Regions from separate parts of the Homo sapiens genome. Here region 1 is linked to region 2. A link means that fine-mapping ties the variant in region 2 to the expression of a gene that starts in the linked region. Tissue or cell type: whole blood. Region 2 holds a variant in brackets; the other region holds the start of a gene. All regions are shown on one strand. Distances are from middle to middle.

Region 1 (7,883 bases), 42 kb before region 2:
CACCAACACATCTTATTGGCTCAAGGTTCAAACTGTAAACATTTCTTGCCACCTCCACTGCTACCATCCTAGTCCAAGTCTGCCATCTCTGGTAACCTTAAAACTGTCCTTATTGTTTCTGGTCTTATCTCCTACAACCTAGTTTTCCCCACAACAACTAGAGGGTCTCTTTAAAGGTTCAATAAAATTGTGTTACTCTTCTAATCAAAACTCTCAAATGGATTTCCCTCCATTGAAAGTTGGATTTTACATTAAGTCCTTGCATACAATACAAGTCGCCACTAAATCTGGGCCATGTACCTCTACAATCTCATATGTTAGCACACTTCCCTTATTATATGGTTTGGACCTGCATCCCTACCCAAATCTTTTTTTTTTTTTTTTTTTTTTTTTTTTTTTTTTTTTTTTTTTTTTTGAGACAGAGCCTTGCTCTGTCACCCAGGCTGGAATGCAATTGCACAATCTCGGCTCACTGCAACCTCTGCCTCCCAGTTTCAATCGATTCTCCTTCCTCCGCCTCCCAAGTAGCAGGGATTACAGGCGCTTGCCACCACGCCCAGTTAATTTTTGTGTTTTTAGTAGAGATGGGGTTTCACCATGTTGGCCAGGCTGGTCTCAAACTCCTGACTTCAGGTGATCCACCTGTCTTGGCCTCCCAAAGTGCTGGGATTACAGGCGTGAGCCACCATGCCAGGCCTCCCCGCCCAAATCTTACGTCAAACTGTAATCCCCAATGTTGGAGGTAGGGCCTGATGGAAGGTGATTGGATCATGGGGGCAGATATCCCCACTGATGCTGTTCTCACAATAGTAAGTGAGTTCTCATGAGATCCGGTCATTTTAAAAGTGTGTGGCACCTCCCCTCTCTCTTTCAGTCCTGCTCCTGCCATGTAAGATGCCTGCTCCCACTTTTCCTTCTACCATGAGTAAAAAGCTCCCTAAAGCCTCCCCAGAAGCAGATGCTGCCATGCTTTCTGTACAGCCTGCAGAACCATGAGCCAATAAAACCTCTTTTCTTTATAAATTACCGACTCTCAGGTGTTTCTTTATAGCAGTGCGAGAACTGCCTAATACACCCTACCTCACTCTATTCCAGCAACAGTGGTCTTGTGCTGTTCTTTGAGCACAACAGTATGATTCTGTCCTCACAGTCTTCTGTACTCACAGACCCCTGTGCCCTTATTCTTCATCCAGATATTTGAATGGCAACCTCTTTCCTTCATTCAGACCTCTGTCCTAATTTCCCTTCCTTTGGGGCCTTTCCTGAGCACCCTCTCACAGATAGAACTGACATTGGTCTCTATCCCCCTTCACTATCCCACTTTCCATGTAGCACTTTTCACTACCCTAATATGTTCTAGTGGGGAAGAAAAATAAATATAAGCTTCACGAACATAAGGACTTTGAAGTTTTATTCACTGTATCCCTAGCACCTGGAAAGTGCTTGGCACATAGTAGGTGCTCAATATATATTTCCTTAGCAAAAGAAGGAATTGTTTTATGGTTTTAAAGTGTGAAAGAATATAACATTGTATTTAATTCAGATGCCCCTTCTGATAAAAAATAGGGATTTTAGGGTAACATTCTTCTTTACTGCTTGAATCACAACTGCCTTTCCTGTCAAGAGATGAAGTTGATAAAATCCTCAAATTTTTTATTATCCAAATATCTAATCCTAAAGCCTTTTTCCATAAATAACACTGACAAAAAAGTCATGACAAAATCAAGCATCATGATGTTCAGAGCCCCTTGGGCCCTGCCTTTCTATAAGAATCTAGGATTCTACAACTTAAATAGAATGTGGAAAACCCACTTAATATTTTGAAGAAATAAAGAAAGAATTTAAAGGTCGAAAAAACCTATGATTAAAAAAACTGGCAACATTGTTTGAAATTTCTTTTCTTCTTGGTTGTTACCGTAAAACAATATTTGAATGAAGAATAATTATATAAGTCTAAACTGAAATAAAATCCTAAGCCCCCACTGACTGAATAGACCCCCTCTTGGCCAAGGGGACCCTGGGAAAACCTTAAAACTGAGTTCCCAGCCATAATGGGATGGAAGGTCAGCTATGCCTCATTATATCCTCTTCCTGTTGTAGTTTGGACACAATTGACCAGGATTAACGTTAAAGTAGAGATCATTAGACTGACGGAACAGACACTTGGTGGCAGTAAGATATCAAATTACAAATAGGACCTAAGGCCATGCCAGGCAAGGGTTAAGTCATGCACTCCTACACTTAAAGAATAAACTATGTTTAACTTCCACAAGTTTTCTGTTTTTCTCTAGCAGCTAAACAAACACTGGCCTTGAGATAAGCAATAGTAAAACAATCGTAGCTCACCACCAGACACTGACTAACTGACCCTCTGTTCCATAAGCCATAACTACAGCTTTGATTGGACAACAGACTGATTTCAATAACTTTCTCCTGATGAGAACATCACCAACCATGAGGTGGTTCTGGCCAGTTTAAGAGGACTGCTCACTTGAGTGCCTTTGTGTCCTAAAAAAAATTTAGACATAATAGGGCCTAATTGTAATGCAATTAAATGTTAAGTCTCCAGCCCAAAATGAACATGGGTCATATGTTACTGTTTGTTCAATATACATGCATCAGAACTACCTTCATAAATATTCATAGCTCCTCCTATATCCTATAAATTATGTATGTTTAGCCAACTTTTCAGCATAAATCTCCTACCTCAACATCCCTCCTTCAAAGTACCTGCCTCTTTAGGCTTCAGTTGGAGGCACACTCCCAGCTTGTGGGATGGCCCTCCTTTCAGGCTGTAACCCTTTCCTCTCCTTTCTAGATTCATAAATTACGTGTTTTTTTAAGTTAACGTAAGAAAGGATTTATAGGCAATTGAGAAACCAAATTATGCTTCTTAGTGCTAATATACCAAGCCACAAAGCAGTGAGATGCCTAGGACTTACGAGATCGCAAACTAATAATATAGCAAAAGCTGGACTTCTGGAAAGCTAACCATGCCTAAATATTCCAAATAGCAACTCTAATATTCTCATATTCATCTGTACTTTGCACTGCCCTACTTTACTCAGATCACCCATGGGGAGACAAACGTGTGATGACAGCAGTGGGAATAGAATCAAGGCCATTGCCTGTGGCTAGGCCAATTAAAAACTTGCCAAGATAGCCAAGTGTCCAGTTGTATACATTTAGCTTTTCATGTCAGAATTGTATATTTTATCCTGTTGGTATGCTTCTGAAGGAGAGTTCATGTGTTTTGTGTCTTAAATCGAAACTGGATTTGTTGTGGCACTTTAAAATCTGTCGCCAGTGTACATTCCAATTTGAGTCATTGCAACCAAGTTTGCAAAGATTGTTTTAAACAGTTTCAACTGGAAAAGTTTATTATTTGAAATCTTAAAATGAACAAATTAATTCACAAAGGCAGAGACATTTGAATGGTGGGTGAATAATCTTTATTTGGTCTGTACTTTCTGCTTCCAATCTGGGAATTTTTCCAAGAAAACACTGACTGAAATACAGTCAGAATTTATATATGCATTTACATTAGGCTCCAACAATAAGATTCAGCCTTTTTCAAAACTGTCACTTGCATAGCCAATAAACTAGTGTCTCAAAAATCCATTTAATTTTCCATACTTCCCAAAACCATTTCAATGCGATGATCTCTTTTGGCATATCTTCCCAAGAGATTGCTAGTTTTGCTGTGATGGTCCATTTCCAGAATCTGGCAGCAATGCGAGAACCATTAGGAGGCTTTGAAATGTAGACCTTCTAAGTAGGGCAAAGGCAAGGAAGACGACTGCAGAGGGAATGCCAGAAGCATTACCGAGTGGATGAGAGAATGCAGGGAAGGAAAATTTCCACTTCACAAAGACATTTTAAAGAGACGGTGTTTGGGGATGATGATGCCACAGAAAGACTCACAACTCAAAATCTCACAACAGGATTCAGTAGTTTAACAAATTCAACTCCAAATTGTCCCCCAGACAATCACTGCAGACTCCTCCCGGTGGCAATTGCCTGTATCTGAGGATTTTACATCTGTCTTTCGTCACTGTCGGTACTGCCACAAAAACACTCTCATAAAAAGGGAGGCAGAACTGCATCAGGCTCTAAAACAACACTCAGCTCACCCCTCGCGCAACAACCCGGGTCCCTAGGGATGCTTGGGTTGCCACCCGCCGCTCGAAGCTGGAGGGGCCGCCGGAGCCTGCGATTGGCTGCTTCGGGCACATCGTCCCGCCCCGACCTGTAGCTCCTCCCAGGTTTCCGTTGTCAAGGACGCGCCGTCGGTTGTTGTCAAGATGGCGGCTGCAGGGTTGCTGCCGCCCCATCTGCTATTGCCCGGCGAGGTCGCCGCTGCCTCAGCTGCCATCGCCGCTACAGGCACCAGTGCCGCTGCGCGGGAGCTAGGGCTGTCGAGGCCAACCCTTCCGCGCCCGTGACGCGGGGCCTGAGAGACGGAGTGTAGGGAGGGGCCGAGCAGGAGGAGGAGGAAGCCGGAGCTGCCATGAGGGAGGTTCTGGGGGCGAGCAGACAGGCGGCGCTGAAGTGAAGGATGCTGGCGGGGAGGCCCGGAACCCGGAGCGCGGTCGGGGAACTGGGCACTGAATCATCGGACAACCTCGACAGAGCCCCCCTCGGCCCTCGGGAGAGCGGCGGGCATCACCGACCTGGCTCTTACCTGTATCCTTCCCAGCCTGTGGCTGCCAGGGTAGCGATGTTGAAAACGGGGCCCATCTTTTTCCAATTAGATTCCCATTACCTTTGACGCAGGGTGATCAAAACTAGCAAGTCATCTTAGTGCAGATATTTCCTTTAGCAACTGTCGTGTCTCACCTTAGACCTGAAATTATACCATTTTATCTAATTCTGTGGCTGCTTCCCCCCATCACCCTGTTATCCTACTCCCATTCTTCAACTTTGTAAAATTTTTGTGAATTTTAAAACACATCAACTGTGTATTCTGTGGGGATATTTTTATGCCATTATGTTCTTTACTTACATATTAACTACTTCCTGATTTATCGTACTACTTGGAGAGAGAAATTACACAAATAAGTAAAATGTTTTGCTATCCTAAAGAGTCCGTTTTAACAGTTATCCTAACACAGCCCTAAATGCATTTACCAGAGCTGCTAAAGGCTACACAGTTTGGTAAGTTGTTTTGTTTTCCATCTCTGCCCAGTCTGTTGTCAGAGCGACAGAAAAGAGGAAATGAGAAACAGGGGACCTGGACGCTTTACAATCTGGATTAACTCTGACTTTTCTCGAAGAGTTGGTTAAGCCTACCTTTGATGTTGCTGTTGGTTGCATTGTAGAAAATGGAAAGAGGAGAAGTATTTTGTTATCAAAATCTGTAAATCAGGTTTATTCCTTTAGAGACTGTTGTGATGATTAGGATTTAACCTTTGTATTCCCAAAGGACTTGGTTGGCAATGATGGTGTTGTGTAATCATCTTCAGTCTTGTCAGAGATGAGTGTCTTCTCTTTCCAAGTTAACTCTGTTTTCTTATCCCCTTTGTCTCCAATTTCTAGGATGTTCTTTGTACTCTGTTACAATTTTAGCAGCAAGTCAACAATTTGTATTGAGTGCCTGCTCTTTGGCTGACTCTGTTCTAGGTTCTAGGGATACAAATCTAGTGAGGAAGACAAATGTGTATAGAGCTTCACTAAAAGTAAAATATCTCTTCTCCGATCATGCTTTCTGCAATCTTCCATCCCTTCAGTCTTTTCTTTCTTTGGGCAGGTTCTCAAAATGGTAGCTTGCAATAGCTGCTTCTAGTTCCTCTCATCTATTCATTATTAACCCCATTCAGTTTGGCTTTTGCCCTTGCTGCTCCCCAAAATTGCCCTCTTAAAGGTTACTCTGAAATGAACACAATCATTTTCTGTATGGATTTAATTCTGGCCTCTTGACATTATATTTTCTTGGACACAACTGCTATTACACGACCCTGATTTATCTCTAAATCAGAAAATAGGGAAGTATTGTAAATGGCTCATTGAGAGTGTATTTTCTGTTATTTTCATTAATAAAATGGTTGTAGGCCTCATTTTTTAAATTTTATGTGGTATAAATTTTTGATACAAATGCCAAAGAAAATATTCATAAATAGAATCCAGCAATACTTTGAATGAACACAACCAAATAGACTCTATTCCAGAATTAGAATGACATTTCCTATAAAGAAATACAACACTAAAAAAGATCCTTAAAGGCTAAATATATAGTTAAAATTAGGCAAGTTATAAATGAACATTTTAATAGATGACCAATAGACTTTGATAAAATCCAACAATGTGTGTGTGTGTGTGTGTGTGTGTGTGTGTGTGTGTGTGTGTGTGTGCTGGTTTATATATATTTTTGCTAGTTTGCATATGTGTGTATATATATGTTTAGATAATATATATTTAAATTGGAACAGAGGAATTATTTTTGAACATAATAAAGATTATAACACTAAATCAAGAACATTATGTTTGCTAGCTGGAAAAACACTAAAGTACCTTTTATATAAGTTTAATTGGAATGTTCTTTGTGTCTATAATGTTTCCCATTGGATACCTAGCACAGAGTAGGTGCTCAAATTTACATGACTAAATGAAAAAAAGGAAAGAAAGCAAATGAAAGGACCACAGCCTTAAAATAAGCAAGTATGTGGTAACATTTACATTTCAATTTCAAATATGAACATGATACTCAGAGGCCATCTGGCTTTCTGTTGAAGACATTTTCTCACTGGAGTCAGAATTTTCTGACTCTAAAGGTTATAAAACAACAAAACCTTATGAAGTTTATTTAATTAAAATTAGCTAAAGTTCTGTCATTTCAATCTCTTTTTCTCTTTTGAGAGTTCAAATAGAAATGGAATTTAAAAAAAAAAAAAAAAGGAAGGTCTCTCATGTCCCCTTATACCTGCCTTTTTTTCCTCATAAATATCTCTACCCTTCAACCCTCCCATTTTATCCTAGCACCCACCTTGCCTCTCCTTTCCTCTCCAGTTTATACCCTATTCTTAACTATTTGAACTTTCTCTCACCAACATCTTTGGCTATTTGTACCCCAATCATTCTGCCTCAGCCACTCAATAACTACTATAGTCCTGCTCCTTTACTCCTTCATGCGAATAATAAAAATGCTGTCAAAGAAAAATCACAAAACAATACAGATTGTACCACTAAAGATTGATGGTTTCCAGCTTCACCTAAACAGGAACAGGGTTCTTTCTTTTTCCTATGAATGCCTCTGCCAGGTCTCTGTCACCTTCCATCACACTCGATAGACTGTCTTACCACTTGATAAGACTTGGATGCCCTGACAGGTCTGTTCCAACAAACAGCACAAACACACACACTCCCACCCACCTGTCTTTTTTTCCCCCCAGGCTCACTGATGGGATCTTACTTTTACTATAGAAAGTGAAGTGAACCCATTCAGCTGGGCCCAGTGGCTCACATCTGTAATCCTAGCACTTTGGGAGGCCGAGGTAGGCAGATTGCTTGAGTCCAGGAGTTCGAAACCAGCCTGGGCAACGTGGTGAAACCATATCTCTACAAAAAATACAAAAATTAGCTGTGTGTTGTGGTGCATGCTTGTAGTACCATCTACTTAAGAGGCTGAGGCAGGAAGATTGCTTGAGACTGCGAGGTGGAGGTTGCAGTGAGCCGAGATTATGCCACTGCACTCCAGCCTAGGCAACAGAGTGAGACCCTGTCTATAAATAAATAAATAAATTGTATTTTGCTAATACATACATAATAAAACATAGTTTTGTACCTTGTGTTTCTAAAAGGTACTGCCCCATGCTCATGAGATTTTGAAACTTAGGTACATAATACATTTCTAATGGCATATACTTTTGTATAACCCCCTTAGGAGC
Region 2 (7,883 bases):
TGGCAGTATCTGCCAGTGGTATTCTTAGATTCAGCTAAACAATCAAACTCCCTTAACTGTACCAGGCTGTTTGGCTTCAATTAGAGACCAGAAAACAGTGCATGCCAACTAGGTAACATTCTTCAATAGGAGGAATCCTTATAGAAGGCCACAAGACAGTTGAGGGGCTAGTTTTTGCTATGTTTCTACCCTCTACAAGTGACAGCTCAGCTTTAAGGCTTATAATGCTTACATTATCACAATGGGTAGGCATCTACCTATTCTGGATAAGACGCCCCATGTTCTAAACAGGAACAAATGTTTTTGTAATGGCTCCATATGAATTTCTCCCATGGAAGAGATATGTCCAGTAATAAGAATTATCATACTCGAGGAAACTCAAAACTATAGCTTTCTAGCAGATACCTGTGGTTTCTTTGCAGTCCTCTTAGTCCAGATGTGGTTTACCAATGAAGGGCCATTTTTACCATAATCAATGTGCCTTGTAACACAGCTTAAATCCTACTAATTATCCAGAGAAATAGACTTAGAAAGTTAACTCAAAGTTGAATTGGTCCATAGAGAAGGAGAAGATTTTGTTAACCCTTTACTCACACACTAATATAGATAAGGTCACATAGACAGTATAAGTAAGATTACAAAGAAAGTATGGATATAGATAAGAAAAAAAGAAAGCCACATAACTCAAAAATTTTAGCATATAAAGGACAGGCAAAGAAAGAGGAGCTCAAGAAAGAGCCTGAGAAGGAACAACCAGAGAAGTAAGAAAATAAATGGGAAATGTGATGATGCGGAAACCAAGGGAATTAAAATCAAGAAAGATAGTGGTCAAGAAATACCTATTTTTGCAATTACTAGGTAATTAGTTAACCACAAGCAAAGTAGTACATTGAAGTGATAGAGGTGGAAGCCAGATAACAGTTGGGTTAAGAGACAAGTGGAAGTTGTGGTAGTAATATAATTTACTACCATATTATATGTGTCAATATAATTTTAGAGTACTCTATAGGAAAGCTTGTCTGAAAAGAGATGACAAACAATTAGAGGGAGTCCCGGGATTTATTTAGACTAATTTTAAAAATTCTAAACCAGTTAATGTAGAAGCAATGTACATTTTCTATACAGGGCTTCTTCACTTTCAGGTTTTTTTTTTCTATCAGTTGTTATACTTTATGTTAATTGAATTATTTTCCTTTTTTGTTTGTTTGTTTGTTTGTTTGTTTTGAGACAGTCTCACTCTGTCTCCAGGCTGGAGTGCAGTGGTGCAATCTCGGCTCACTGCAACCTCCACCTCCCGGGTTCAAGCAATTCTCCTGCCTCAGCCTCCCAAGTAGCTGGGATTACAGGAACGTACCACCACACCCAGCTAATTTTTGTATTTTTAGTAGAGACTGGGTTTCACCATTTTGGCCAGGAGGGTCTCGATTTCTTGACCTCGTGATCCACCCGCCTCGGCCTCCCAAAGTGCTGGGAATACAGGCATGAGCCACCATGCCCAGACAGATATTTTCAATTTTTAAAAACTCTTGTAGAATGAAGAAAAGCATAGGCGTTTTTCTTGTTCAACAGTGTGCAGTTGCTTGAAGTCTTAGAAGAGTTAAACTGTCAGAACAACTTTGCTTTCCCTGCAGCAAACATGTATATATGATTACAGCAAGTCTATGCTAGGATCATTAAATAACACACATCATCTTTGTTTTATAGAAATGATCTTCATTGTGCATTAGAATACCTAGTTAGTTTTCATGTTATTTTAACATACTATTTTGACTTTGACTTCATGATATCTATATCTATCTGTGTGTGTATGTTTATATATACATATATATATCACATAAATTCTATGTATTTGGAAAACAACAAGTGTATACAATGTATAGTGAGAACACTATGATTTACTTATTAAAAAGTTAGACTTCTCTCCACAGATAACCAATAATCTTAAGTAATGTATATGAAAGTGCTTTGTAAAATTTGAAATTCTATATAAATATGAGATATTGGAATATTAAGAATCAGGTGTTAGGTTAATGGACATATTTTTATTTATTGAAAATGTAATTAAGCTGAAACCATTGATAAACTACTATCACATTAAAAATACATTTTCAGTGGAATGTAAACCTAAATGTGTTAAGAAATAAAGTAATGCCAAGAAATAAGGGGCTTACAAAGAAGCAGAGGTATATCAGTAAGATTATTCTAATGTGGAAAATGTTAGTGGTAGATAAAAATAAGATGTTGGCAATCTGATCATGTAAAAGAGAAAAAAAATATATGATAAAGTGCAGGGCATTTAGTGCTTAAGCCCTAAGATAAATCAGAGAATATATTCTCATGAACATAGAAGCTGCTTCAGCAAATAGTGAGATATAAGAATATTAATAAGGGAGTAAAGTTAAAAATATAAGAAGTAATTAGTCTTCTGTCACCATCAAATCCTTATCATAAAGCTAATATGCTTGACCATTCTGGAAGGTGTAAAGTAAAAGGGGATATATTGTCTCCCATATTAAATGGTTAAACTTTAATAAAATGATACTGCTAGATATCTATCTCCAATATCCATGTATCTGTAGTGTGGCAGTTGATCCTGAACTACGTGCTACACTGAGAAATCTGGCCAGAGCTGAGCAGTTATCTATTGACCTCTATTTGCCCTTTGAACTCATGCTTTAAACCAGATTGTCCAGCCCATATTCCTGTATCTGTGTGAGTAAAAGGCTTCTGAGAAGTGAAAATACTCTAAGAGCAAGAAATAAGAAATGGCGAACCTGAATAAGCTATGTACGTTTTTCAGTACATGTGAGAGGACACTGGTTGATCAAAGGATGATCATACATGGACCCTATGGACAAGAAAATAACATGAATCAAAAGCCTAGAGGCAGCCCAATAAACCAAAAAAAATAATCTTAATAAGGCTGTCTCTCTGCCTGCCTGTCCAAATGCTTTTCCACCTGTGCAGATCCATTCCTGCCTGTCCAGCTGTCTCCACACCTGACCCCTACTTACCTGATCAACTGTCTCCTCCACGGGTCCCATTGCGGTCCCACCACTTCCAAATTCTTCCTAGCTACCCAACTGTTTCTCCTGCCCGCCAGCCCCATATACTGCCTATCCATCCATCTGTACCCTCTACTCTTCCAAAGACCTTTGCACCAGTCCCATTACTGCCTTACCCAATTAAATATCATCCTTGTCCTCCAACCCCGGCTACTTCCAGCATTTCTAGCAGTTTCCCTCGTCTACCAGCACCAATTCCTTCTTGCCCACCTGGCCATCCACCCCACGCACCCCAGAGTTCTCCAATCATTCCTGACCCTGAGTCACAGCACAAGTTATTTTACAAAACTTTCAGACCCAAACATTTCCTTCCAGCACAGCATTCTACTGCAGCCACTCTAATGCCTACCCTTGTTCGTCGTTCCCTTCCAGCTCCACTGGTTGTTTCCCCAACCCCTTTGGAACCTCTCCCTGTTTTGAAGCCTTCCTGTTTATCCAGTCACCCCCCTTATCCACCAGTCCCCACTCTTTCTTATGTCACTCCGTTGCCTGCACATCCTGCTAGCTTGGATCCTTTTCAGTCAGTCCAGCAATCTGTTCCACAAGCCACAGCATTGTCAAATCAGCCCGAGGCCTTTGCAGATCATCCACCAGCCTCAGTTCTCTCCCTTGCATCTCCCTGTCATTCTCCATCTTCTTCTTTGCCTTCATCTCCTTCTACTTCCACATCCTTTTCTTCAGCCTGTATACTGTTTTCTTCCTCCTCATCTATTCTTTCCTCTTCTTCGACTTCCTGTTCTACTTCTCCATCCTTACCTCCTTCATCTATCCCTCTTTTTTCCTCTCCTTTGCATTCATCTTCCTCTCCAGGTTTGCCTCCAACTTATTTAGCTTTTCCCTCTCCAGTTTCTCCTGTTTCTTCTTCCTTTATGATTTCCTCTTCCTTTCCCCCTATTCTTCACTCTCCTTCTGTTTCTACCTCCCCATCTCCTTTTATTCCTATCCACCCCTTCAATCCTCCTCATTGGGGGAAGAAAGTAGAGAAGAGAAGAGAAGAAAGTGGAGTAGAGAAGAAAGGAATAGAGAAGAAAGTTGAGACACGACAACTTTAAAGGTAAATAAATTGAGTTTATTAGATATTTTGTAGATATAGCAATATTTTGTTTGGGAAGGGCGACTGAAGGGGAAGGATTATCTAAGAGTAGGAAAGTGTAAAAGGAAGAGACAGAAACATACTCTCAATGTTCAGGAACTTGTATTAAATACCTTCTTGCTCTCCCTGATTAAATGTGTGATCACAAAGGGATAGTTAATCTAGTAATCATTGACCTTGACTACTCCAGTCTGTCCAAATAAAGATATATATATGGATATTGGAGATAGGGAATAGGTATATATCACATGTGGCCACTATCACCTTCCAAAACATTTTTATTCTCATTAAAGTGGGAATAATTTAATTGAATTAGGAATAAATGCTCTT[T/C]GGATTCACACTGCCAGCCCCAGTGCAGCAGCATTCAGCTATATGGTAGTCTCATCCCCATCCTATCCTCCCCCAAAACTCTTCTTTAGTTCTTTGCTTTCACTTTGTATATGTGCTGAAATCTAACATGCTATAGATTTGCAGAAGATACAAAATTCTAATAGAAAATGATGTCATGCACTGAAAATGTTTGGATGGCCCTTTAGCATAGTAAAGGTAGACTCTATATTAAGGGTACGCTTCTGTGGCATAAAAACCATGCTTATATTCCTGTTTATATTCCTGAAATAACTGAAAATAAGTGAGTACTTGGCCTCCATTGAGGACGATCCAAGTTCCCAATGCTAGTTAAATAGGGAGGAAATTCCTGCTGACCCTGACAAGCAATTTTTATATTTTCTATCTGCTTGAATCTTCAACCAACACTATTAGGGTTACAGTTTTTTCCTAACCTACTAGCCATGACATCAACTCAGAAAGAAGGGTAATGCAGTATATTATTATCCATATAGGAATGCTCTTAAAGACCTGAGGACTGACTCTACACAGGAATTACTTCTACCCTTATCCCAGATTATAGAGGGATAGGTTATAATAATCAAAGCCATGAATTACTGGGCATTCCTATATGAAGGTGGAGTTCTTTACTGGTACTTTAGTCTCACAACTACTTTTATTCTACTATTGATTGCCTTAAATTCTCATTCTAACATGTCTATATATTTCTCCAATATCCTTATATGTGGTTATCTGGACAAACACACACGTATTACACCTAATGTGTCATGTATATACATATAGAAAGAAGTTAACTTTATTTAAATGTACTAAGCACTTTTTATGTCTGGTTCACAGAGCTATAGATTCTGCCTTGCCTTCCGCATTATCAAAAAATGATCACAAGCATCAGAAACAACTCTTATCCAAAATCAATTGTGAGAAAGAAATGAATGAAAACATGAGGGCAACCTTGGCTACTAGCAAAAATGTGTTCCAGCTTAAACTGGAGGAAACTCAGAAACTCCTCGAAGATCAACATCTAAGCAATTTGCAAGTATGAAACTATAAAAATGTTGTTAATATTTTAATTCCTTGCACTAATTTTGCTCCACTTTTGCAGTGTTCTCCACTAAAGAAATATCTTACTAGCTGAGAGCAGGCCATGAAAGACAGTGTGGATGAATCAGCACAAATTCATCATAGAAACTATAGAAATAATTTTTTAGTTTTTTCCTTACCTTTGAAAGTACAATGTAATGTATTATTGTTAGAGATTGTATTATAAAAAGCAACCAGAAAATTATAATACATGTAGATATTAGTTTCTTAATGGAAATATGGCAGAATTTGCTAGAAATGATGTTTGTAATCTATCCCTAGTAGGGCATATACTTTATTTTTTCCACAACTGAATACAGATATCAGCTGATTTTCCTACATGTCCATCCATGTACTTTATTTTTCATTAATAATTATGCACATTTATGAGATTTTTAATAAACCAATATAAGATTAAATTCATAACATTGGCCTGATTCATCCAACAATTAATCAACAGTGGCAAGGCTAAGAAAGCAAAACAGAAGATTCCTGGCAGCTATCGTGATGTGCCTTCCTACCATAAACAACTATAATTATGAACAAAATAAATAAAACAACTGCTTGTAGACATGGGTCAGAGGCAGTGCAGGATGTGATCTTGAAAAGGGGAAAGAAATGATGTAAGCCTTATAACCTAGGCTTTCTACGTAGTTATGTTGCCTGAATAAGCCTTAAAAAGATCCACTAGTAACCCAAGCTACCTATTAAACAAAAAAACTTAACACTTTTTTCTTTTTTCCTTTTTTTTTCTTTCTTTTTTTTGAGATGGAGTCTCACTCTGTCACCAGGCTGGAGTACAGTGGTGCAATCTCGGCTCACTGCAACCTCCGCCTCCCAGGTTCAAGCAGTTCTCCTGCCTCACCTCCCGAGTAGCTGGGACTACAGGTGCCCGCCACCACGCCCAGCTAATTTTTGTACTTTTAGTAGAGACGAGGTTTTACCATGTTGGCCAGATGGTCTCCATCTCTTGACCCCATGATCCGCCCGCCTCAGCCTCCCAAAATGCTGGGATTACAGGCATGAGCCACCATGCCTGGCCAACACTTTCTTAAAGAAGACTATGAAATCTAAATACTCAATAACATAATGCTCACAATGTCAGCATTCAATCAAAACTTACTAGACATGTGAAGAATCAGGAATATATGACGCATAACCAGGAGAAGAGTAGTCAATATAATCAGACAGAAATAACAGAGATGATGGAATTAACCAACAAGGAATTTTAACGTATTTTTACAAATATTTTCAAGGAATTAAAGTAAAAATGTACATAAGAAAGACAATTGAAAAAAGAAATAAACAGACCTTCTAGTTCTGAAAAACATACTATCAGAAATGAAAAATTGACTGGATGGACTTAACATTGCAGTCATTGCAGAACAAAAGATTAGTGGACTTGAAAACATAGCAATAGAAATTATCCAAGCTGAAGCTTTGGGAGAAAAAGGCTGGAAAAAAATGAACAGTTTGTTAGTGACCTGTGAGACCATATAAAGCCATCAACACATTTAATTAAAAATAAAATTTAAATAAAATTTCACAAAGTAGGAATGGAAATGTTTAAAGAAACCATCGCTGGAAATGTTTCAAATTTGATGAAAATTATAAATCCACAGACTCAAGAAGCCCAACAAACTCCAAGAAGGATAAGTGTATGCACACACACATACCACAGAAAGGCACCTAAAAATCAGATTAAAGCCAGAGGGAAAAAAGATATGTTACATGCAGGGCAATAAAGATAAGACGGACCGCTAAATGTAACTTATAAGCAAAACTTGAAATTGATCATAATGTTTCATTATTTAGTGGTGGGAAAAAATCTGAAGAAAAAAAAAGTATTGTTTATGAAATCAGAAGTTGCCAAACTTCTTCTGAGGTGATTTGGGAGATGAAGCAATTACAGACCTATGCAAATGGAAATCTTAGAGCCATGGATGTCATACTTATATCTAGAAGGATCTTCTAACGCAAATTTCTGTGTCTCACTAGATGTAACCTCAAAGGATGCCTTCCAGGCCTGATTTCATCATCATTATCAGTTAAAACAACTTATTTCCAAGAACAGGCATTGAAGTAGCTATGCTTTGTTTTGTTCCCTGTTTGGGTTGAGTGATTATCACTTTAAGAAGTATGCCAAAGGATGTGATAAATAGGGACTAAATGCTAAAAATATAAAACTCTCATGAATAATTTTTAAAACTTATTCCACAATACTAAATCAATAAGAACTAACTATATAAATTAAAATATTTTTATTCTGTAATTTATTTACTTTATTTCTTAGTTTA

Evidence for each region. PIP is the estimated chance that this variant, and not a neighbour inherited with it, causes the effect.
Region 1: it holds the start of CEP126, and the variant in region 2 is fine-mapped to the expression of CEP126 in whole blood (INTERVAL, PIP above 0.99).

The regions. Positions count from the first base shown.
Region 1 is chr11:101,910,727-101,918,609 of GRCh38, forward strand. CEP126 (centrosomal protein 126) reads left to right here and starts at 4,284. Exons shown (of 11, transcript NM_020802.4): 1 at 4,284-4,686. The coding sequence starts at 4,559. ANGPTL5 (angiopoietin like 5) reads right to left here and starts at 5,796. Exons shown (of 9, transcript NM_178127.5): 1 at 5,293-5,796. RefSeq lists an enhancer at 4,203-4,302.
Region 2 is chr11:101,952,825-101,960,707 of GRCh38, forward strand. CEP126 (centrosomal protein 126) reads left to right here. Exons shown (of 11, transcript NM_020802.4): 5 at 5,344-5,542. It also overlaps the pseudogene LOC100418997. Among named protein-coding and RNA genes, the nearest start is that of ANGPTL5, 40 kb to the left of the region's middle. The variant T/C (reference allele first, on the strand shown) is at 4,489.